Regions from separate parts of the Homo sapiens genome. Here all the other regions are reported to be linked to region 1. Evidence: microRNA targets listed by miRTarBase, many of them from high-throughput screens and not tested one by one. Region 1 holds a microRNA gene; each other region holds the end of a gene's coding sequence.
Evidence for each region. Region 1 holds the annotated microRNA hsa-miR-3150a-3p (CUGGGGAGAUCCUCGAGGUUGG, at 3,106-3,127, opposite strand). A microRNA usually pairs through its seed, bases 2 to 8, with sites in the 3' UTR of a target mRNA and lowers its output. Matches are read on the target gene's strand: a 7mer-m8 pairs with bases 2 to 8, a 7mer-A1 pairs with bases 2 to 7 and ends in A, and an 8mer does both.

Region 2: the mRNA of HAND1 is a reported target of hsa-miR-3150a-3p. Seed matches in the 3' UTR shown: 7mer-A1 at 2,894-2,900.
Region 3: miRTarBase lists E2F1 as a target of hsa-miR-3150a-3p. Seed matches in the 3' UTR shown: 7mer-m8 at 2,645-2,651.
Region 4: miRTarBase lists ZNF281 as a target of hsa-miR-3150a-3p. Seed matches in the 3' UTR shown: 7mer-A1 at 2,203-2,209.
Region 5: miRTarBase lists SPON2 as a target of hsa-miR-3150a-3p. Seed matches in the 3' UTR shown: 7mer-A1 at 3,087-3,093.

What each region holds. Positions count from the first base shown.
Region 1 is chr8:95,071,275-95,076,088 of GRCh38, reverse strand. MIR3150A (microRNA 3150a) reads right to left here and starts at 3,175; the gene lies at 3,096-3,175. It overlaps MIR3150BHG (MIR3150B host gene), which reads left to right and starts at 2,907. Exons shown (of 2, transcript NR_132986.1): 1 at 2,907-3,160. It overlaps MIR3150B (microRNA 3150b), which reads left to right and starts at 3,093; the gene lies at 3,093-3,178. LOC124901980 (a long non-coding RNA gene) reads left to right here and starts at 3,836. Exons shown (of 2, transcript XR_007061013.1): 1 at 3,836-4,343. It also overlaps a transcript of NDUFAF6 not described here. RefSeq lists a silencer at 2,601-2,700.
Region 2 is chr5:154,473,156-154,477,969 of GRCh38, reverse strand. HAND1 (heart and neural crest derivatives expressed 1) reads left to right here. Exons shown (of 2, transcript NM_004821.3): 1 at 1-504; 2 at 2,060-2,998. The coding sequence ends at 2,164. Among named protein-coding and RNA genes, the nearest start is that of HAND1, 2.7 kb to the left of the region's middle. RefSeq lists enhancers at 1,069-1,923, 3,594-4,565, 4,566-4,814 and a silencer at 2,078-2,265.
Region 3 is chr20:33,673,133-33,677,946 of GRCh38, forward strand. It overlaps E2F1 (E2F transcription factor 1), which reads right to left. Exons shown (of 7, transcript NM_005225.3): 5 at 4,294-4,408; 6 at 3,973-4,198; 7 at 2,345-3,847. The coding sequence ends at 3,600. It overlaps NECAB3 (N-terminal EF-hand calcium binding protein 3), which reads right to left and starts at 1,296. Exons shown (of 12, transcript NM_031232.4): 1 at 1,092-1,296. The coding sequence starts at 1,220. RefSeq lists enhancers at 57-604, 605-1,152, 1,823-2,323 and a silencer at 1,007-1,636.
Region 4 is chr1:200,403,686-200,408,499 of GRCh38, forward strand. ZNF281 (zinc finger protein 281) reads right to left here. Exons shown (of 2, transcript NM_001281293.2): 2 at 1,266-4,814. The coding sequence ends at 3,333. Among named protein-coding and RNA genes, the nearest start is that of ZNF281, 3.9 kb to the right of the region's middle.
Region 5 is chr4:1,164,111-1,168,924 of GRCh38, forward strand. SPON2 (spondin 2) reads right to left here. Exons shown (of 6, transcript NM_012445.4): 6 at 2,822-3,546. The coding sequence ends at 3,362. The region is part of intron 1 of LOC124900647 (nascent polypeptide-associated complex subunit alpha, muscle-specific form-like); the gene reads left to right. Among named protein-coding and RNA genes, the nearest start is that of SPON2, 6.1 kb to the right of the region's middle. RefSeq lists an enhancer at 2,951-3,200 and a silencer at 3,027-3,310.

The DNA of each region.
Region 1 (4,814 bases):
TAAGTAAAAAGACCATTGAGACCTCATGTAAAAATTGAGCCCTTTTATGATATAACCAGGGCAATTTCTAGGAGAGGTGAGTCACCACTCTTTAGAGATTTCAAAGCCCCGGAGTCCACCCCACCAGCCTTCTGGGAGATTCCAGCAAAGTGGCTCTCCTTTCCTGATTTTGATTTTGTGTAGTTGCCCAGTCTGGCTCACACTAACATCGACCTGTGTTTGTCAAAGATTCTCCTCTGGTAATTCAAAATAGCGCAAGGAGAAGTGTGTGCGTGTTCGAGTGAAGCAAGATTGGCCTAGAGCTAGTTAAGCAAGAAGGTTTCCAAGCTCAAGTACCTGGAGAAGTGCGCATGCCTAGAACCAGAGTCCTTCAAATCTCTCTCCCAGTTGGCTTCATTTTCCCAGGCTGGCTGGCTGTGCAAGACACACGCCCTGAGTGTCTGCATCCTTAATTTCCTGCAGAGAGGAAAGAGGACACTTATTCACCAAGCCAACTAGAAAATTCTAGGGAAACATTCCCATGCCCCGAGAGATGCTTATGGTTGGCCTGGGGAGGATAAAATCCCAGCTCCAAAAAGGGAGTGCTAATCTAGGCTGACAAAATAATAAATGTCTGTTTGGGGGCATCAGAGAAATATTGTTTTCATTCCAAGCATTTTGAGACTGTGTATTTGGCCCTGGTGACCTGACAGACTGAATTTTCCTGTATGGTCCTAATTTTATTTAATGTATTTTTTTCTTAATAAAGATGATTTTAAGTGTATAACTAAAAATGACATTATTGTATGCTTTTGTAAATTTCATCTGAATGAATGAATTCACATATCTGAAAGTCATTTGTCACGTCTTGTGTCCATGGTTTAGAAACCTGGTGTATTGCTCCATTTTAGAGCACGCTAGAAAAATCAGCAGGAATCTCTGGACTGTTCTGTCATTTGAGCTCTTTCATTTGTCTGTTGACCCACATGAATGGGATCCTTGTGACCCTGGGTTCTGCTTGTCAGCTGTCCAAGTCTGGGCCGTTGTTGACCTACCAACAATCAGTGAGGGATGTGTTTGCTTACCAATTGAGAAATAATGTTTTTCACGTTAGACTCTATTTGAGGGGTGGGGTTGCTGGCTGCCTGATAATCATTCCTGCTTTCTTTGAATGAAATTTTTGAGGTTGTAAAAGAAGGAATTTGGAGTTTGCAAAGCCTAATCATAACATGAGGCCCTTGATCTAAGGGCTCTCCAATGGGCAGTGGCAGGTGGGATCGCTGGAAGGAGGAATCTAAGGACAGGAAACCAGTGAGGAAGTAAATGTAACAGAGAAAATCCACATCTGGGATTAGACAACAGCAGTGAGAGTGGAGAGGAAGAGATGAGTCTGAGAAACAGTGAACAAGGAATCCACAGAACTTGGTGACTAAGTGGAGGGACAGAGAAAAGAGGAGGGGGAAGTCAAAATGGCTAGATGGCTTCTAGTCTGTGACAGAGGCAGAGGAAATGCTCTGCTATTCATAGAAATGGGGAAGTTAGGAGGTAGTGCATAAGGCTGTACAGTTTTAGACATAGGACATTGGAGGAGATGGAAAGTCATCTTCAGGTGGTTAGAAACCCAGGGCCACTTTTGGTTGGTGTTCAGGAAGGGAAGTGCAGAGAGGTGGAAATCTCAGCCACAGGTCAAACACTTCCCTGGCCCCAGATTAAAGACCAATCCAATTAAGCATGAGAGCACACGAGCCACACAAGTCGCACAAGTCAGTAACGAAAAGGACTCCCAGGTGATCTTAAGTCACATAATTAACATATTTTCAGGGCCCTACTTGTATGTGGCCCTGAAAACGTTGAGACTAATCAGCTGGAATATATCCATTTTTTTTTCTCCTTCTTTTTAAAACCTTATTATAGAGAATTTTAAAAATATACAAGAGTAGAAATAATTCTAGAACGAACTCCCATGTTTTCATTACCCAGCCTCAACAACGATCAAATCATAGCCAACCTTGTTCCATCCCAACCCTTACCCACTTCTCCCTGCGTTATTTTGAAGCTAATTCCAGACATAAATATTTCAGTCTGAATTTCTAAAAATAAGGACTCTATCCTTTAAAAATAAGCACAATGCCATTATCATGCCTTAAAAAATTAACTATGGTTTCTTATATCAAATATCAAGTCAGGTTCAAATTTCCACTAAAGTTTTAAGTTTCCATTAAAAGCAGTTGATTTGAATCAGGATTCAAATTAGGACATCAGGTTGGGATTGGTTGGCAGGTTTTAAAGTCTCTTTTACTCTTTGGGTTTCTCCCCTACCCTCTGGAGAGAGCTCCCCACACCGTGGCTTTGCTGACTGCATTCCTTGGGTGGACTTTCACTTGTGCCTCTGTCCTCGACATGTCCTGTAAGCTGGAAGCCGGGATCAGATTCAGATCCATTTTTATTTTAAGTGTTATGCAAAAAGACACCCAGTGAAGGTGTTAGAATGAGCCATGGCAGTGGATGGGGTTCGCAGGACCCCTGCGGAAGGGGGACGTTTAAGGGGCAAGCGGAAAAGGAGACACCTGGAATGGGGGAGGAGGAGCAGCGGGGCGAGGCGGGGGCGGTGCCGCGTGGTCTGCGAGCCCGGATATTCCCTGGGGAGCGCACCTGCGACTTCACCTCCAGTCCCTCCCCGGCTGGGGCAGCGGGGCGCGGGCGCTCGGGAGAGGTGGCGCTGCCTACTCGGCCTCATCTTGCTGAGAATGCGACGGGGCGACAGCTTCCTGTCTTTTCCAGTGGCTTTTGGCATCCCCAGAGGAAAAAACGGGGAGACCCGCTTTGGCCTCAGGAAGCGCAGAAACACTGTCCTGGCTGCGCGCGCAAGGGCGAGAACCTAGGGGACCCGCCTAAAGCGCCGTTGGGGCTGAGCACCGAACTCGCACAGCTCCGGGCAGCGACCCGCGATGCGGCATCCTTCCGTCCGGTCGGAGCCCTCCTAGCCCTCAGCGCGTCTATTCCTAGCTTCGGTCCCCGCAGCCATATAAGCAATGACACCCTCGCCGACTCGCCTGCCAGCTTGGCCGCCTCCCTGCAGAGGGCTGACGCTTCTCCAGAAGTTGTAAGAAAAGGAGGGAAAGCAGGCCAACCTCGAGGATCTCCCCAGCCTTGGCGTTCAGGTGCTGAGGAGATCGTCGAGGTTGGCCTGCTTCCCCTCACTCCTCGGGCCTTGCTCTTCCCCCAGGTGCCCACTGCCCTCCCTGCTGTGTACCACTTTCTTGCTGCCTGTGAAGGTATTTGTCCTCACTCTTGTGCTGCTCCTTCAATGATAGAACTTTGGGACTTTCTCATCCAGCAGCACCAGCCTGAAAAAGCAGTGGCTTGCACCACCACACACATACCTGGTCTCAGGTGGGTGGATCAGGGCAACTTGGCCACTAGTGCCCCAGTAATGCCCATCTGCCCAACCTCAATGCAGGAGCAACAAGTATTTCTCTGTCTTGGAGAGATCTAGAAAAAGGCTGAACATACCACGAGGGTGTTGCTTCAGAAGAAAATGCTGGTCAGGGTTCCAAGCCATCATAGGAACTTGTGAGCTGAGAAACATGGTCAACTCTACTCTCTCTCTCTTCTCTACCTACCCAGGCAGCCACAAATCTCAGTGTCAGTCACTGCTTTGGTTTGACATCTAAGGGCTCTGTTACAAGGGTAACTAAGATGAGTACCAGTAGATGCCCAATGACACTTGTAAACATGAAAGTGTATACCAGTATAAAGGATGCTGCAGCCTCAGCCTTGAAAAGTAAGGCTTTTAGGGAATGAAACAAAGGATAGTCAGGTTCTTAGGGGACAGGGAGGGTTCTGGCATGGGGAGCAGCCCTGGGCAGGTCTGGGGGTGCTGCGAAGTAGGGCACCGCAACATAACGGCCCTGTGTCTTAGGTGGCCAGGAAGGGGAAGGCAGGAGATACAGAAGGAAAGGAAACTAACATTTTATTGAGACAGGCATTGTGCTGGTCCTGAGGTTTATGCGAAGATTAATTTCTGGGGGTGAGAAGGTAAAAAATGATGAGGTGGAAACCAGCATCTTCTGTTACTCCCATCTGTGCAGAGTTAAAGAAGACTTGAAAGAAGGGGATGTGAGTGGCAGGAAAATCCCCAGTGACCGGCCCTGAACCTTCTGCCAGCGCAGCTCACCTCCTCCCCAAATGCCTCCCAATAGGATCTCAGCCCTAAACAAGCACAGGGCGTGGGGTGGTACAGATGATGATGTAGCTGCTTCTGAGATGCCCCTGGGCGCTGCTGGAGCTGAGCCCTGGGACTGGAATGACTTTTGCCCGCTGCCCTCAAAATTCCCACAGGCCACACCGCTACCACCTCTTGGGTAAAGTAGGAGGGACACATCTCCACCACCATCCAAATTGTTACCTAATGAGGAATTTTGCCAGGAACTACTTACAGCCCAATGGAGCCAGGCTGGGTATTTCCAGGACATGAGCCATTTTCTCTGTGCCCACTAAACAGGGTGCAGGTCCCTGAAGCCCTCAGGGAAGCTGCAAAGGTTACTGGGGTCGGCTCTGGGGCAACAGCTGACCTCTTAGCTCCCACTGCAGGCGTAGGAACCTCCAGGACAGCCTGTGGGGGTGGTGAGTCTGCAAAGCTGGCTGGCTAATGAGGGTGCAGTGCTGGTAGTGTCTGCCTTATGCTTTTTTTTTTTTTTTTTTTTCTTTTGGAGACGGAGTCTCGCTCTATCGCCCAGGCTGGAGTGCAGTGGTGAGATCTCGGCTCACTGCAAACTCCACCTCCCAGGTTCACGCCATTCTCCTGCCTCAGCCTCCCGAGTAGCTGGGACTAC
Region 2 (4,814 bases), not on the chromosome of region 1:
CACCACCCGCACCCTGCGCACCCCATGCTCCACGAACCCTTCCTCTTCGGTCCGGCCTCGCGCTGTCATCAGGAAAGGCCCTACTTCCAGAGCTGGCTGCTGAGCCCGGCTGACGCTGCCCCGGACTTCCCTGCGGGCGGGCCGCCGCCCGCGGCCGCTGCAGCCGCCACCGCCTATGGTCCTGACGCCAGGCCTGGGCAGAGCCCCGGGCGGCTGGAGGCGCTTGGCGGCCGTCTTGGCCGGCGGAAAGGCTCAGGACCCAAGAAGGAGCGGAGACGCACTGAGAGCATTAACAGCGCATTCGCGGAGTTGCGCGAGTGCATCCCCAACGTGCCGGCCGACACCAAGCTCTCCAAGATCAAGACTCTGCGCCTAGCCACCAGCTACATCGCCTACCTGATGGACGTGCTGGCCAAGGATGCACAGTCTGGCGATCCCGAGGCCTTCAAGGCTGAACTCAAGAAGGCGGATGGCGGCCGTGAGAGCAAGCGGAAAAGGGAGCTGGTGAGTCCTGGGGCTTGCATGCTCCAGCCAAGGGTGCAGGAGCGGTGAGCAGCCTCAGGCCATGCAGGTAGTCGAAGGAGGCTGTGTTGTCCTGTGTCCGATTTGGAAAGGTTGGGAAGAGTTCTGAGATGGTTGGTCACAGCGTGCGATCCTGTGCATGGAGGGAGGCAGATTCGTCATAGAATTCATTTGTAATACGGGAGAGTGTTTGTAATACTGAGTGAATAATCTGTTTGGAGCCTCGGACCCTCCAAAAATGCACACACCACAGGTTTTGCTTCCAATTTGGAGAAGTCCTGATTCATTCCTGGGCTCTCCTGGAAGCCAGGTTAAGAATATGTGTTAAAGTTCTTTACTTTGAGTTTGAATTTATGTGCCCGGGCTCGGTTCCTGTTTTCAAAGGGCCTTTGCTGGACCGGCTAGTCTACTTCCATCATTGTATAAATAGGGAAACTGAGGGCCCAGAGTGGGTCGGGGCAGGAAAAGCACCTATCTGAGGAGTCCAGGGTGGAGGTGAGGTAAAACAGATCGGGTCTTCTACTCAGTCCAGGGCCAGTTCTGGTTCTCCCCATGGACTGGTTCTGAGGACGACTTCAGTGGCTTTGCATGTAAATAAGAGCCACTTCTTTTAGCTTTGGAGAGCGCAGTCTCGTCTTGGCCTTCTTGATCCTCTCCGGTTAGGGTGACACTTCCTGGCACTCGGTCTGGCTGTCCGGGGCTGGGGGCTTCTGAGCGCTGGGTTTTCAGGCTGGCCAATCAGTTTCTCTAGGTTGGGGGGCTTAAGGCCGTAGCGGAGTGGAGCCAGCTGAAGCGCCCCACCTGGTTTATCCAACCTGCGGGGGCCTGTGGTAAACTGACGAAAGCTCATCCAGGGACGAGGGAAAGATAAATAGGCATCGAGTCTCTAAACGGCTGCCCCGGACTGGGGATGGTGCAGGCCGGCTTCTTTCGAGGTGCGGCGCCTCGAAAGAAGTTGTTATTGGGCGGATCCCGGCCCCCACGCGTCGCCGCCTCCTTCAAGTAGCACCGCTTGGTTCCTGCTGAAAGAGCGGGAAGGAGGACGCTAGGCCAGCTCGACTCCCCGCTCTTTTACCTCCGTATCTGAGGCTCCCAGCTCCGGCTTAGGGGGCCCCAAGCCTGCATCCAAGCCCTGATGTTTAAACCAGGTTGGGAGGCTGGCGGAAGTGTGTGGGGTGCAGCGAGAGCGGGAGAACCGTGGATTTCCACCCCTCCCTTCCAATATCCTGGGATCTCCCTTAGGTGTCCTAAAGCCAAATCAACGCGCGTCAGTTTCACCAGACGCAGAACATTTTCCTTACCAAACCTCCCGAAGCTGCCCAGCCCATCCCGGGTCCCAGGAACTCCGCGCATAAAGGCAAATTTACGAGCCTGTTTGCCTATTTCGCAAACAGAAATCCGTCACTTATTTAAAGACTCCCAGTTACTGCTCCCGACACCTTCCCCTCCTCCTCATCTTACCCCATGCCGGGCGATCGGAGCAGAAAAATTAAAACCTGTCTCTCCCGCCTCTTTTCTTCTGTGTGTCCTTTGGCAGCAGCAGCACGAAGGTTTTCCTCCTGCCCTGGGCCCAGTCGAGAAGAGGATTAAAGGACGCACCGGCTGGCCGCAGCAAGTCTGGGCGCTGGAGTTAAACCAGTGAGCCGAGGCCCGCGCCGAGGACCTGGCCAGGCCAGCCACTCCTGAAGCCCCGGGAGGAGAGGAAGGCAGCGGCGAACGCCAGGCTCTGGGCTCCGGCGACTGGTGCTACGCATCCCGCGGAGCTTCTGCTGAGCGCCGGCAGGTCGTCGGCTGCAACCACACACTTGGATCGCACGTGCAATGTCCTTTGATTTTTTTTAATACATTAAGAGAAAGAGAAATATATATATATCCACCCCCAGCCCAACCGAGGGCGGCCCTTGGCGGCAACATGCAAGAAGGAGGGACTGTCGAACCCAAGGGCTCAAAGACGCACTCTTCCACCCTTTTGGAGCGAATTTAGAACCTCAGCCCTATCTCCATTTCCCTATCTGGCTCTTTCTCTCTTGTCCCTCCATATGATCCGCCCCGACGCCGTCTTCTCTAATTAAAATGCAATAAGGAATCAATTCTTTTCTGCCTGAGAAAGAGAACCAGACGCAGGAAGATGAAAGGCTGCCCTTTGTTCTTCGAATCGTGGTGGTTTTATTTTATTTTTCTTTTTGTCGCTGCACTTCCTGTTTAGTTCCAAGGGAAACACTTTCTCTCTTTCTCTGTCTCTCTCTTTTCTTCCTTCTTTTCCTTCCTTTTTGTTTCTATCTAAATAAAAGCTTTCCCTGTGTTGGAAAGTTTTTATGTATTTAAACTACCTACCATGCCTGTTGTGCTCAGGTGTTTGTTCATCCTGCCATCCCCAACCCTTTTCTACCTCAAGTCTGTGTGACCACTCACAGCCCCCCTCCCTTCGCCAAAGCAGTGTCTATGCTCTTGATTAATAAAACATTTTCTGAAATCATCTGAAGCCTGTGTCATGTCTCAACCGGGGTCCCTCACCGACTCCCATGGCTTCTGCTAGGTGGAAAGCCTCTGTTCCTGCTCCTCTTCTTTTGATAAACACGAAACCAAACTTGAAATCAAGGGAAGCCGGCAGATAAAGAATGTATTTCAAGAACAAGAGCAAAGTTCTCTTTAGACTAGAACGGGAGGTGGGGGTAACTTATGGGAACGGGGAAGAACAAAAACGGAAACGAATTAGTCTCAGAGGGCCTGGGCTCGGGTTTTTGTGCGTTGAGTATTCGTGCTTGTCTGGAGGTTAGTATGCCCACTGGTGTCTGCAAAGAGTGGTTTGGAGTGTTTATTGGGAGGGAAGGGGGCCTAGCACACAGGTGAATCCTATCCCTGGGGCAGGGTAGCTCAGGAGAGGGGGTGTTGGTGGGGAATATGTTCATGTATGTGAAATTCTCAACATATAGATGTACATGTGACAGTGCAGCAACTCATACGGAGCCTGAGGCTGTGCAGGGGCCAACAAGGGTCTGCTTAGTACAGCTCCAAGCACACAGTAAGGACTTGACAAGTCACAGCAGCTATTATTATTTTATACCTGAGTAAAATAAGCTTGTGAGTGCTTATATGTTAAATTGAGGTATTTAGGTTTCTCTTTAGCAACGAAGCACTCGACAGAAGGTTGTGAGAGCATATGGATTTGTGCAAAGGGATGGGGTGTATGTGTGTATGCGTGCTCATTCGGGCACTTGTGCAGGAGAGCCAGTCTTTGTGTTCTCTCATGCGCACCCATGACTAGGTGTGGTGGGTATAAATTCGGTGCATTTGCCAAGGATCTTGGATGCGTATTGGGCTAAACTGGGGCGGGCAAACGCAGTGGTTTATACTTCCAGGAATAATAATGTACGAATACTTTGGTTGCGTGCAACTGTGTGCTAGGCACTGCGCTAAGCACTTCTGTGTCTCCCAACAGCTCCCATGGTTGCCCCACGGAGCGCACGCTCTGCAGCGCCTGAGGGTCTGCGGCGCTCACTGCGAAGGAGGAGGGGAGACCCGTGAGGCTGTCTTGGAACTTTCGCTCTGCGCACCTGGAGCCTGAGCGCTCGGCTTGGGAACAAGAAAGGAGACCTCAGGCAGCTCCGGGGCAGGGCCTCGTGGGGCACCAGGCGTGCCCCAGGCGCCTTGTCCCAGCGTCGGGGTGAATATGGGACCCCATTAGTCTTGGCTGTAAACACCGTAGCAGGGGCCGAGAGGCCACGCGGGCCTTTCCGGACGCGAAGGAGTTAATAAAAGGTGTTTTATGGGCGCTAGGAAACAGTGGGGGAGGTGTGAGCTTCTCTCTCTACTCTCGCCCCCCTACTTTTTTCTTTTTTCCCTCTCGCCACCCGCCGCCAGATCAAACAGGCCCGCGATTTAACTAGGGCAACACTTGGCGGTAATGAGCCTGTCCGACGCACCCCTTCCTCGGCCTCAGTACCCGGCCCGAGGCCCCAGGGCCCTTGGGGAGGAGCAGAGAGAAAAATCAAAGTTTCTTTCTTGTTGTTTTGTTTTTCTTTTCTTTACCTTCTTTCTTTCCGTTTCTTTCTGGGAGTCCGTTTAGAAATTCCGGCGCGCATGGAGAAACAGACTCAGGGAGGGAGGTGATCTAAGCCCCACAGCACGGAGGGAAGCTTATCTAGATTCGAACCCAGGACTCCAACTTCGCTCACACACAAACCTCTGGCTATACACAGGTCCCAGCTCCCAGGACTATTTTTAGCACCGTGAAGTATCCTAGGCACGGGAAGAATGCGCACCCTGGTCTAGCTTTCTTATAGCCGGGGAAA
Region 3 (4,814 bases), not on the chromosome of region 1:
CAACAGAGGCAGAGAGGAGCAGAGTCAAGACAGGTCCCCGTCTCTCTTAGTGACCTGCTCCCAGGTCACCCAAAGCAGCCCAGCAAAGGGGAGACTGGCAGGCCTGGCAAGCAGGGGTGGGCCAAGCCTGGGCCGAGAGCCCCCATGAACTCCAGGTCCTGAACGCCAGCCCCCTCCAGGGTCCTGTTTTGTCAGGGTCAGTGGGGCTCAGGAAAGACTCTAACCTCTAGCCTAACTCAGAGAAGGTCTGCCACTGGCTGAGGGGCACGCAGCAAGCCAGGGAGGCCCAGGTAGGGTAGATGGAGATCTTGGGAGTGGGCAGGGGTGCTAAGCTGGGAATGGGGACATCTGGGGTCACCCTATTGTATCCCTGCCTCCATGACTGACCTGAGACATATCCCCTCAGGCCTTGGTTTTCCTACTTGGGAAGAAGGAGGGTCAGGTCCCTTCCAGCCAGGGCTGTGGTCAAGGTGCTGAGTCACTAGGGGCAGTGGGGAGGGGGTGGGAGACAGCTTTGCCTCCCTCTGGAGTTGGGGCATGAGGGGGCCAGGACAGAGCCGAGCACAGCGGTGAACGGTGGAGAAAGGGCTCAGGGCCGTGGCTGGTGCCCATGGTGGCCGCAGGGCCACCCATGGCCCCATGGGAGGGTGACTCTGAGCAGCCCTTACCAACTGTAGGACTCTGCTGCCCTGGAGTGGGGCCTGAAGAACTCTGGGGGCGGCACTAGAGTCAGGAGTGAGGGGCCCTTGCGTTTCCAGGCTCCCCTTCCCCAGTCAGCCCAGCCTGGAGCTGCCACAGAGTGGGGTGACCGCTGCTGTGATTGTCGCCAGCCCCCCGCCAACACCAGACACACAAATGGGGTGGGCTGAGGGGTGGGAGGCAGCAGGGGCAGTGACACTGGAGCAGGGACAAGAGGAGACATGGAGAGACAGAACAGGTCACACAAGGGCAGAAAGGTCAAGAGAAAACAGCAGGGCCAGAGAGAGGGGAAGAGACCCAGAAACAGCGGCGGGGCCCGAACAACCCCGGAGGGTGAGACTAACAGAGACTCGGGTAGGGAGACACCGCGAGCAGAGCCCGCGCCCACTCACGTCCTGGAAGAGCGTGTGTCCGGCGGGCCCCGGGTCGGGCGCGAGCTGGGGGTGCCGCGGGGTCTGGGGCTGGGGCTGGGGCGCGGGCGGCCGGAGCAGGCACACGGTGAGCAGCCCCGCGCACGCCATGGCGCCGCCACCCGCTCGGGCTCGGCTGCGGTTGCTGCCGACCCTGGACGCCGCGGCGGACTCGGTGTGGCTAGAGGCCGCCCCTTGGCGCCGGCGCCGACGCGCGGGCTCAGGCCCCGCCCCCGCCCCGCCCCCGCGGACGCCGGGTTCCCTCGCCTCAAGGTCCAACTCCAGCGCCGCGGGCCTCCGCGCTTCCGCGGCCACGGCGGAGGGGGAGGCGCCCGAGGGCTCCGGTCCCGCGACGGCCTGTCGGGAGCAGAACCTAGGGGCTGCGGGCCTACCCAGAGGGACAGGATGACCAAGCCAGTGCCGAGGTCAGGGTGACACAAGTGGGTAAAACCCACCAGGACTTCACCTTTTGGGGCGTCTGTATCCTCATCTACAAAAATGGTACTGGCAGACACCCTATGCAATTGTTGGGACTCATTCAATGTCAAGTGCTTACAACGGGGGCTGGCGCAGAGGAAGCCCACAGGTCCGTGCGGCCGAATCCCAGGCATCCCGACGCCCGCCCTCTCTGGCACTAAGCGCAGCCCTTTCCCCTCCCCTCCGTGACTCTGGCCCTCCCTTCAACCCGTTCTCCACACAGCAGCCGGGGGGAGCTTTTAAGATGCGAAAGAGGAGGTGTCACTTCGGTCTCCAGTGACTCCTTGGCCCCTGAATAAAGCTTAAGACTGAACGCCCCACTCCAGGAGCACCACTCTGACCCTCACCTCAGGACCGCAGCCACACTGCTTTCTCTCCGGTCCTCTATCCCGCTCCCTCCTGCCCAAGGCCTTTGCCCATCGTGTCCTCTGCTTGGTGTTTTCTTCCTCTGGTTAACTCCTACTTATTTTACAGCGCTCAGCTTAAGCACCACCCATTCCAGAACGCCTTTCCCGATTTTCTCATTTATGCAGATCTCCTCTTTCAGACCCTGAGAGCACCATGAAAGGAGGTAACACCCGTGTCCCCAGAACTGTTAAATACCTGACACAGAACCAGCCCACTGTATTTGTTACATGTTTACTAATGTCCAGAAACGTCTGGAAGGAAGACAGCAAACTGAGCAGAGTGGCCTCTGGGGCTGGGGAAAGGAGAGGCCACTCATTACTCTGCACTTCGGGCAGCACTGAATAGCATTCTTGGCTTTCTACAACAAAAACCTTTACTGGATCTGCTTTTGAGTTAGGACCAAAACAGCGAGGAAGCTGACCTTTCTTCGAGTTATGAGGCTCAAATCAAATCGGGCACGGACAGGGAGAAGGGAAGTGGAGAATGGGCATTTCCCCAGCAACCTTGGCCTCTCCCGCCCCGAAATGTTCCCAACAGAGTCCCAAAACCCGGCCCAAACGTCATCAAAATATTTATTAAAACCAAAGCAGGAGGGAACAGAGCTGTTAGGAAGCAAATCAAAGTGCAGATTGGAGGGTGGGGCAGAGCAGTGGGGAGGCAGGCGCTTCAGACACTGCAGGAGGGACCACAGGGTCTGGGCTGGGGGAGGCCTTCACCACCCCTCCTGCCCACATCAGTGAAGGTCCCCCACTCACCTCTCCCATCTCATATCCATCCTGGGGGGCAGCTGGGGCCCTGAACTGGCCCCCTGGAGAGGGCCCACCCCACCATCTGACCACCCATGGCTGTCAGTCAGTCTGTCTCCCTCCCTCACTTTCCCAATAAATAAATCACCCAGGCCTCAGTTCCTTCAGTATGGGGCAGAAGAACAGCTCAGGGACCCCTGCCCTTGCTCAAGGGTAGAGGGAGTTGGGGTATCAACCCCACACCCCTCCTCCCCTTTGCTGATTCCCCAGGCTCACCAAAGAGGCCTCGATAAATAAATAACGCTCCATTAAAGCTTCAATCAGAAAAAACCTTTAAGACAGAAGTGCTCTCACCGTCCTACACGCCCAGCCAGCCAAAGCCTCCCCACCTGGCCTGGTCAGAGCACCAGATTCTGGGAGCAGGCACTGCCCTGGGCCTTGTGGGACCCCCAGAGCAAAAGGGCCGAAAGTGCAGTTAGAGCCCCCCCACGCGCACACATGGACTCATGCACACACATGTGGACACACTGGGGCGTGTCTGCAGTGCACACACAGAGGTGTATGTTCACCTTCATTCCCCGGTACATGCACACACACATGCTCACACACATTCACCCCCGGTACACACGTGTGGGTGTAGGCTGCATGCACATACACACCACACAGACTCCTTCCCTTCCTGGCTTGCTCAGCCTCCTAGCGGTAGCCAGACCCCAGAGCTAGAAGCTTCTGGAGACAGAGGAGAGGGGTATAAATTAAATGTTTCCAAACAGGCTGGGAGGACGGCCAGGGACAGGGGGCTCCAGGGCTGCAGAGACAAGGTGAGCATCTCTGGAAACCCTGGTCCCTCCAAGCCCTGTCAGAAATCCAGGGGGGTGAGGTCCCCAAAGTCACAGTCGAAGAGGTCTCTGATGCCCTCGCCCTCCTCGAGGCCGAAGTGGTAGTCGAGGGCCTCGTGGGGTGGGGAAAGGCTGATGAACTCCTCAGGGAGGAGGCCGGAGAAGTCCTCCCGCACATGCTCCAGGAGCGAGTCGGCCGCCACCAGCGGGGACAGGCGGTCCTCGTCCACGGGAGCCCGCAGGCTGCCCATCCGGGACAACAGCGGTTCTGGGGAGACGGGGAGCATCACAGGCCGGGGATGCCCCAGCAGGGAGGAAGGCAGGGGCTGTCGTGCCTGCCCACCCCCCAGAAGAGGGGCCCTGCCCCACCCCACCCACCTACCCATCACCCACCTTGCTCCAGGCTGAGTAGAGACTGGCTGGGATCTGTGGTGAGGGATGAGGGGGGAGATGATGGTGGTGGTGACACTATGGTGGCAGAGTCAGTGGCCCTGTTCTCCTCCTCAGAAGTGACCTCCTGGGATGGGGTCTTCCCAGGGCTGATCCCACCTACGGTCTCCTCAGGGCACAGGAAAACATCGATCGGGCCTTGTTTGCTCTTAAGGGAGATCTGAAAGTTCTGGGTGGAAGCAGCAGGCAGGGTAAACTGAGGCCCAGGTGACCACCAGCCCAGCCCAGCCCAGCCCAGTTGGGCCCGGAGTTCCCAGATCTCACCTCCGAAGAGTCCACGGCTTGGAGCTGGGTCTCAGGAGGGGCTTTGATCACCATAACCATCTGCTCTGCAGGGTCTGCAATGCTACGAAGGTCCTGACACGTCACGTAGGCCAGGGTTGGCAGAGTCAAGGACCACATGACCTTTGACTTCTAGGGGGTCACTCACTCCAACAGCTCACAAGGCAGGGCTCACACCTGCCTAGTCACTCCTGTCCTCCCAACCTCCTACCCACTCAAAACCTACCTCACGCCTGAGTTTCAAGTTCCACATCTGTATAATGAAATCACTCTACCCATTGAATCCCAAGGTAATAATGGCTACCGGGAACGATTCCATGTAAAATGTTCAACACAACTCCAGGCCTGGTGCTGGGAATTTATTTTTTAGAGGCAGGGTCTCGCTATGTCACCCAGGCTGGAGTGATGTGGCTCAACCAGAGCTCACTGCAGCCTCAAACTCCTGGGCTCAAGTGATCCTCCCACCTCAGCCTCTTGAAGCACTAGGATTACAGGCATGAACC
Region 4 (4,814 bases), not on the chromosome of region 1:
TCACAGACTCGCCAGTACAGATAATCTCTACAGAGAAATCCATGCTTATACTTAATATCTTTATGATTTCCTGTAATACTATCATATACTAAAAAGAAAACAAAGCCTCAAAGACCTATTCTACCCTTTAATATATTTATTCCCAATTCCTCAACACTGTAGCCACTAAATTTCAAAACACAAATGTCTTATGATCTACTTTTTCCCTTCATACTTATAAGTTTACTAATATATTACATATTTACTAATTTTCAGTTTCTGCATCTCCATTATTTATAGGTTTAGCTCTTTCCTTCTAATACTTATACTCTCAACATTTTAAAACATTGCTGATTTAATAATACCTTCATCCTAACTAAAATGCTCAAGACTGTTGTAATCTAAATCATACTGTCACTTTATTACAACTTTTTAAGTAAAAAGTTTTTTTTCCCAAAACTGGTGCCACAGGATATTACAACATTTTTGAGGCAAAAAAGGATGCACCTAAAACCAGAAGATATTGGAATCTGATTTAAAATAAAGCCTCAATAAATAATTTCTCTGGAGTAATATTAGGATGGCTAACCCAATTTCAAGAAAACATTGATTTATATAATATTAAATTTCTATTCTTCCATATTATGCACCTAAAACATATTCAACGTTCATAAAGTATTCAATGTTCATAAAATGTTGAATGTTTTCATAATGTCATAAAACTGAATATTTTATGAACATTGAATATGTTTTAGGTGCATAGCAATATGGAAGAACAAAAATTTAGTATTATATAAATTTGAATCCTTTTTTTTTTTTTTGAAACGGAGTCTTGCTCTGTCGCCCAGGCTGGAGTGCAGTGGCACAATCTTGGCTCACTGCAACCTCCCCACCTTCTGGGTTCAAGCAATTATCCTGCCTCAGCCTCCTGAGTAGCTGGGACTACAGGCACACGCCGCCCCACCCAGCTGATTTTTTGTATTTTAGTAGAGACGGGGTTTCACTGTGTTACCCAGACTGGTCTCGAGCTCCTGAGCTCAGGCAATCCACCCGCCTTGGCCTCCCGAAGTGCTAGGATTACAGGCGTGAGCCACCACTCCCGGCCTTGAGTCCATTTTCAACTAAAATAAACCTAGAAACACAAAATACCTAAGTTAAAAAAATACAATTAAAATACAAGCCTCTAAACTGCAGGTTATACCACGGATGTGAATATTTTAGAAAATGTTAATAGAAAATTCTGAAAAACGTTACTGGATATTAAGTAATATCTCCTTTCTTCAATCTTGTGATTAACAGGACTTTTATTGGTAGTAAACTAGAGCAAACAATCAGAATAATACATATGCAGTATTCAGTACACACAATAAAAGTTAAAGAAATTCAAAACCTGTATAAAACAAACTGGAGAAAAATCATACAGCTTAAGAGATACAGTGGTAAAGGTCCTCTCCATCCTTTGATTACAGCTTGTACTCTGTACTCAATAGAACTTACCGCACTTACTGAAATAAGAAATAAACACTTTTTAGTACTCAGCGTATTTAAGATTAAGTACATTTTCTAAGAATCTTGCAATGACAAGTTGGTGACCCTTTAGCTGCTAAAGCTAAAGGGAGGAAAGTGGGAAAAGGAAATTAACTAATACTTTGTAACCATTTTTAATATTTCTTATTTTCCAAACACTGCTTTTATAACAGAAGTGTTTTACACTTGCACAATATTAATTACTTTATTATACATGGAAGCCTGCGGTAGGCTGATTACACAATAAGACTGCAAACAACCAGTGGTACTTTTCTGACGTCAGAAGAGTACATAAGACTGAAACATCACCAAAAGTACATAAAAAACTCATCAGCATAAACATCAAAGTACATTAAAAAATATAATCAGGAAAAAAATACAATTGCTAAAAAGCAGTTTTAGAGTAGAGCCACTGCCAATCAGTAGCTTCAAATGGCAATTAGAGTTCATAGCAAGTTTTGATGACTTTACAAGACCCCTGTACAATACTAATGCACCCTTTCATTAAAATGTACATTAAAGGCCGCAATTTCACAAAGAGGTTCTGATGTTATTACTATAAGCAGACACATTCTTATCCCTCACAGGAGTTATGTCACCAGTTGGAATTACAACCTTATTAATATCTATCCAAGAACACGGGGTTTTATTACATATGGAAATCTGTATGGGTTTTTTTTTTTTTAAAGGTGGGTTTTGGGGATGTTTACCCTATTGTTTTTTATTTGGATGCCCTAAGGCATATAAAGCGCATAGTGAATTACCTACTGGAATGTAAATGGTTCTAAAATTAAAACTGTTAAAATAGAAAGAGGGAAAAGGAAGGCCCAAGAACTCTTAAAGAGAGGCTGAGAACAAGAACAAAAAAACCCAGAAGTGTAGGTAATACGTAACAGCGCAGACAGAACCGTTGTAGGCCATGTATAATAAATAATGCATGCCCCAAATTTCAGTTAATCATATAATTTCAACTTGAGTTCTAATACTGGAACCAGCCAACCACTTGGGCTTCAACACTGTACTAGATGTCAGTAGAATCGCTTGATGGAATTACAGCCTTGTTACAGTTGAGATCAAGAGAGGGTGCTTTTTTTTTTTCCTTCTTTTATTAAAGCTATCATTCCAGGCTTTGATCAAAGATCCAAGAATATTTGTTCTACCAGGCTGGAATGAATGTGGTTTGGAAGTTCAGAGTACATTTAAAAGCTGCAACAAAATATAGGTAGCCAACAATCTCAGAATTTTGGATCAGCCCAGATGGAGATAGCAATTTGAAATGTCTTCGATCCCTTACTTAAATGACGAAATGTCTATCAGCCCAGATAGAGCAATTTGAAATGTTTTCGATCCCTTACTTAAATGATGAAATGTATATCATACTATCTGTAAATTGGATATTCCATTACAGTGATAACGTACAGAATTCCCATGCGTTATTACACTTTCCTGAGAGTAAAGCAATTAGAATAACCTTAATCCTAGCAACAAAGTTTTTTTTGTAGGTTTTTTTTTTTTGGTTTTTTTTTGTCTTTTTTTTTGCGTTTAAAACATTTGGGCTATTCCCTGACGATCTATACATGTAAATTTGATTGCTAAACATTGTCACTTTGAATGTCAAACTATTTTTAATCTATTGATTTTGATTAAAAATCATAATACAAACAGAGCTAAAATCACGCTAACAAAATAAACTAAATATGAAAAGTTGCATTGAAAGGGCATCACATTATTCTTAATAGGATCGTGTAGAAACATTCCAATGGCAGTGTTCTCAAAATAAAACAAAATTACATTAGAAGACCTCCAGCCTGGCCACTTTTGGGACCTTACCTGTAACTCTGGCTGGTGGGTGTCTTTACTCTTGTACTACATGGCTCACTTACATCAGACATCATATTTGTATACCCTGAGAAATCTGACACTGAAGTCCTTACTCTATGGTCCACTTCTCCATTAGAGTTAGTGATAAAGGTCATTGGCACCCTGCTGCCCGACTTAAACTGAGAACCAAACGCTTGTGCAAAGTTCTCAATCTGATACGTTGTTCTAGGCTCTATGTCTTTCTGAGGATCTATCTGGCTAGCTAACTCCTGAGATGGAATCTGAAAGCCTGTTGAAGACTCTAAGTTTTTCTGTTCCTTCTGGCTAGTCAATTTCTGAGATGAGGACTGGAAGGCTGATGAAGTCTCTAAGTTCTTCTGAGAATCTATCAGATCATCCAGCTCCTGGGAAGGTGTCAACTGCTGATGTGTAGCATCCAAAGCAGACAAATAAAGACCTGGCTGAGATCCAAACAACATCCCAAAAGGAGGCTTTGGCAATGAAGATGGCAACACTGAGGTAACAGATTGGCCGAAACCACACTCCAAAGGAGACGTAGTGTATATTTGTTTTTCTGGAAACAAAGTGTGGTTGTGGAGAGGTGAAGACAAACTGACAAATTGGAAACCGTGTCCAAGAGTAAAACTTGCATTAGTGGATTTTTCAAAAGCCTGTTGGAGGTATTTGGAGTATTCTTGCAACATACTTGCTTTATCATTTGAAGGTGTTTGGGTGCCTGGGCTCAAATTTTCTTCTTGAACCAATTCTGAGTGTTCTCCTGAGGTGTGTAAATCCACTCGTGGTTCTGCAATATTGAAAGGATCCTCTTTCTGGCTTTCTGATTTGTTGGAGTATTGATCCAAAATACTTTGTAAAACCTCATCAGGAATTCCAGACTTGTCATGACAAGATTTAATTTCAGCATTTAGAGCTGAGGAGTCAATAAGTGACAATGGTGCCTCATTGTCCAAAACACTGACACCTGCAGACTGAATGACAGACTGTTGGGAGACCATGTGTCCTACGTTTATAGAAAAGGCACTGTTGCTGCTGGCAGTTGGTAAATATCTTCTTTTCTTTGAAAACTGCATGGCATCATCATAATTACTACTTATCTGACCTTGTTTGCCACTTGTACTTTGGAGAAGACCAATGGTCTCCACACTATTATTTGATACTATGCCAAGTGAGCCACTTGGTTTTCCAGACAAGGATTTCTGTCCTACTATGTCTGGTAATGGTGACACAAAGTTAAGGTAGTTTTTATCTGTATTCTTTCTGCTTCCTTTCTTAAAGATCAATTTTGGCACCCTCTTCTGCAGTTCATCTATTCCAGTGCCAATTATGCCTCCACTGGAAGACACGGTAGGCATTTCTACTGAGTAACTCTGCATGTTTATATTATTTGAAATTTGCGATTCATTTGTTTTACCGGTCTTCTGTTCCTTATTTTCAATAGCTATGCTTTTTGACTTTGTTTTTCTCCT
Region 5 (4,814 bases), not on the chromosome of region 1:
CACCACCTCCTTGCTCCAGCCTCAATGTGTGTGTTTACTTATTTTTAGAAGTGGGGGTAGAAAGTGGAGTCCTCCCTGCATCTTATGAAAGGGGCAGTGTCTCAGAGCTGTATCCATCCCGTTTCGCCATTCTGTGGGTGGAGGGTGTCCCCTGAGAGTGCCAAGGTAGGCGTCTGGATTGTGCCATCCACACACCCTCTTCTACAGCTCCAATGGAGTATGGTGGGAGTGGAGTTAGGTGTCAGTGCTCAGTTCCTCAGCCTACCATCTTTGCCAGGAACTCCCTGCCCATCGCTTCTCCATGTTCTACCCTTTGTCTTCCTCCCCCAGTGCCACAGACCCCTCAGCCCCAGTCCCCATGGCCTGTGTGTTGTTGCTGAGCACAGTGGGCCATTCCATGATTATCCTCCTATGGCTCGGACACTGTGGACTGCCGACCACTTCTCAGCACAGTGGGCTGGACCAACCCTCACCCTGTAGGCCCAGCAGCACCCTGGAGCCCAGCGTATCCACATCCCACTAATATGAGGGGCATGCAGTCTCAGTGTAGTTGTGGAGCCCCTCCTTCTGGCCCAGGTGCCCCCCGTCCACCTGTGGCAGCACAGTGTGCAGGGGGCTACAGACCACGAATGGGTCCCTCAGGTGTGAACTTGCCCTCACTTGCTCACTGCCCCCCTGGCTCCCCATGCTGACCCAGTTGGGACAAGGCCTTCCTGAAACTGGGATGGGGTCAACTGCTTGGGTATCTCTGGGAGGCATGTTAAACGCAGGTCTGTAAGTATTCACGTTGCGTTTTCATCAAAACAAACCCAGACTCATCCATTTCTTCCCATGTCCACGGGTGTCTCTGAGGCCCAAACCTCTCTCTTTTGGGACTATTGCAGGGGCTTCTCCTCTCCATTTTCCTGTCTATACCCACTACTCACTGCTGTCAAGATGGCGGCCACTGATGCAGTGCTGTTTCTGCACTCTGCGCCTTCCCGTGCTCCCCACCTCATTCAGGAGAGGGCAGCCACATAGGTCCTGTCTGATCCACCCTCCGGCCAGGCGGCCCCTGTGGGATTCCTCACACAGCATTCCATTACCGGATGGCGTTCCCCATTGGTCTCCTTCAAATCTCAATGCCTCAGCACAACAGTGGCCGTCCTAGTGGCGTGGGGGCCCCAGAGACTTCTGTGATGGCACCCACGTCAACACATGCCCTGGGGCCCCAGAGACTTCTGTGATGGCACCCACGTCAACACATGCCCTGGGGCCCTGGAGACTTCTGTGATGGCACCCACATCAACACATGCCCTGGGGCCCCAGAGACTTCAGTGATGGCACCCACGTCAACACATGCCCTGGGGTCCCTGAGGCCAGGAAAGCACAATAGCCTCTCACCTGGGCAGTAAATGTTCTGGCCCCAAAGTGACGCCTGTCCTACCCCAGGGACCCCCAGCTCCATGCTCCAGGAGGGAGGGCAGGTGGATCCAGGTGTCTGCAGGAGTCTGCACCACAACCCCTTCCCCAGCCTTTCAGTGATCCTACAGGACTTCACAGGCTCCACAGTAGCGCATGGTTCTGTGAGTCTGCTCTTGCAGTCTCTGCCCTTTGACTGGAGTGTTGTGTCCGTCTGTCGAGGCTTCAATGCACCACCCCATTGTGCTGCTCTGGTGTCTTTGAGTTTAGAGCTCCTGGCGAGGTTAACTCGGTCAGCATCTTCTCCTGGTCATGCCAGCCCCAGCGGCCCGGTGGCTCTGACCGTGGAGTTTGCCATGTGCTCTGACTCAGGAGCATCAAGGCTGGTGTTCTGTGCGTTTTATGGGTTCTGATTGTGGGTTCATGTTCCTGGGGATCCTCTTGAGTTCCAAGTACACAGTGTGATCTCTACACAGGATTTACGGCCATTCTTTCAGGGGCCTCCTGGCATTGTCAGTCCCAGGAACCTTAAGAAAACTTTAAGCCAGGGGTTTTTCAGATCTCCACGTCACCTCAGAGCTCATGCGCCCGTGAGCTTGGGCTTAGTTCATTGTTTTCAAGGATGGTGGGCGGGGATGGCGTGCAGGGTGGTGGGAGCTGGGCCTGGGGTCTGGTTCTAGAAGCATCAGGGCTGGAGGGCCTTAGACAGTTACGAGGAAGGGTCGTCTACCAGGCCTCGGTGAGAGAAGTGAGCCCCCACCTTCCAGTCACTGGGAGAGGACTGAAGAAGCAGCCATCCCCCAAGCATCTCCATCCTCAAACCACACAGAGCTCCCGCCCAGGCACTGAGAGGGCCCTGGGGTTCCACCAGGTGAGTGGCACTGGTGGGGAGGCCTGGGGACCCCTGCTGCAGAAAGGGCCACGACAGATTACAGTGAGCCCCTGAGGACATCTTTGAGGTTGGGGCCTCTGAGCTCAGGTCTCAGGAGGTGTCTGCTGGTGGCCTGATGGGCTGCGAGGGTCTTGGTGGTCAGTGGCCCCCCCATGAACAGCAGCAATGCAAGCTGCTCCCACAGAGGAGGGGGCAGAGTGAGGGCTTCTGGGGCCTCGTCCGGATCTCAAGGTGCCCCTTGTCTGAGCTTCTGATCGTCCTGTGGGCAGGCGCGTGCCTGCCGGGTTTGTGGATGCATCTGACATGCCATTTGCTGTGTCTTCTGAAATCCTGTATGGGCCAGGGGTGGCGTCTGTTGTGGGGAGATCTGTAGGTCTCAGGCCTGCCTCCCACACACACACAGAGCACGTGCCTCATGGCCCTGACGGCAGCACCAGGCGCCTTCTGAATGTGTGTCCCCAATTAGCGCACACCACGGGTCCCTGCACTGCACGGGGCCCAGAACAAGTGTGGGGACAGCCAGGGACATTTGTGAGCAACAGAGATAGTCTTTATTCAAACGCAGAGAGATCCATAACATGGAAACACTGACGCTTCCGAAACCGCCCCATTTATTCACTTCTCAAGTGGCCCCCGCTTGGATGCGCCCTCGGGAGAGTGGGCTCAGCACAGCCTAGAGCACCAGGTCTGAGGTATCTGCAACCACGTGGGAGCCAGGCCCCTGGACGATGAAGGACAATCTCCTGGAGCAGCAATAACTTATAAGGAGACATAATTTAGAGTAGCTGGAGCCTTGGGGATGACTTTATCCTGCAGGAGGAGGAGGCTGAGAGCAGACGGGACACGGGGGCCCCTAAGAAGCAAGGTTGGGAAAGGAGGAGGCTGTTTCCCAATGCCCGTGCCGGCCACCAGAGGGCCCTTCAGTGCAGAGATGGTCGGCGCGGCCTCACCGCGGTCAGGAGCAGCGCGAAACCCCCTGTGCCCTCGGCCGCCTGCAGCATGAGCCTGCACAGGAGCCCCCGACACCCCATGGCTCCGGGGGGCCCCAGGGGCTGCGGGGCTCTGGTCTTAGACGCAGTTATCAGGGACGCACTCAGCCTCTTCTTCGAGCTCGGGGCAGGGGCTCCCGTTGTTGGCGGGCTGGACCCGGACGTAGCGAGTCCTGCTCTTGGTCCCGAGCCTCCCACAGTGGCCTCCGCACAGTCCCCAGGACGACCACAGGGAGACCTCGCAGTCCAGCGGCGTTTCTGGAACTGGACCAAGCAAAGGGGAGACCGAGGTGAACGCTCGCGTGAAGAGGCGCTTCGTACAAACGGAAGCCACCTCCCACCAACGTGTGCATTCATCAGAGGCCACGCCCACCCTTCGGGGGCACTTGCGTTTCTCCGCACAGTCGCAGAGTGAGCGGCAAGATGGGATGGCACCATAGCAACCTCGGACACAACCTAGGGACTGGAGTTGCGCGTTTCTACGTAAGAGCCGGAGCTGCCGCTCAAGTCCCTGTGGTGGTGGAACTCCCACATCGTGGCAGAGTAAGGGGCCCCTGGGAACCCCGTGGGAACCCCGGGAGAGGGCGGACACCCCTGCTGTAGAAAGCTGCTCTGCCCGAGCCTGGACCCAGCTGCTACATTTACCCGAATAACAGACAGGGGCACCTGATTAGCTGTCTTGCGGGACCTGGACCCCCCACAGGACTCAGACCTTTTCAGTATCGTTCTCGTTTCCCTGTGTCCCATCTGGTTCCATAATTTTCATAAATTTAAAAATCATCATTTGGTGTTATGGTTAAGTCACTTGGTAATTTCCATGTTTCCAAAGCAAAGTGAAAACACCTCTTTTGCACCCCACAGGCCAAGCCAGCCAGATGGACAGTGTTTCTCTGGCTGTGTGGCCCAGAGCGGGCAGCCCCTAAGGAGGCCAGGAGCCCCGCCTCACTCTGCCGTGCACGGGAGGACAGTCAGCAAGGGCTCGGCTCTCCTCACAAATCTGCGAGTACCCTGCTGCCAGCTTTGTGGCTACTGAAGGATGAGAGAGAGTGGAGAAGGGGGTCAATGTGCAGGTGCAGTGCCTGGACTGGTCTGGAAGCCCTGGCCAGGCCCACACCTGGAGCAGCCCTCTCCAGAGATGCAGGAACAGGGCTTGCAAAGACCTTGGGCGCTGAGGCTTCGCAGGGGCACTGGTGTAGAAGCCAGAGAGCCAGGGCCCCGGGCAGCCCACCTGGGGAGCACACAGAGCTGCTGGCAGATCCCAGCACCCCCCAGCTTCCTGACTGAAACCGAGGTGGTGGGAGCGCCCCTGCCCTGGCTGCAATGAGGAGTCAGTGAGCACTGGCAGTGCCTGTTCTACAGCGAGGGCCCCACCACAAGCCTCTCCAATGCTGCAGAGCCCTGTCAGGAGGCCTGGGGACAGGCATCCAGCGTGTGAGCAGGAAGCCAGAGCTGAGCCAGGCTGGCTTGGCGTGGACCTGGCGGAGCCTCCTGGGTGCCAGCCGCCACATGCCCATCCCAGCCTCTGCCCTCGG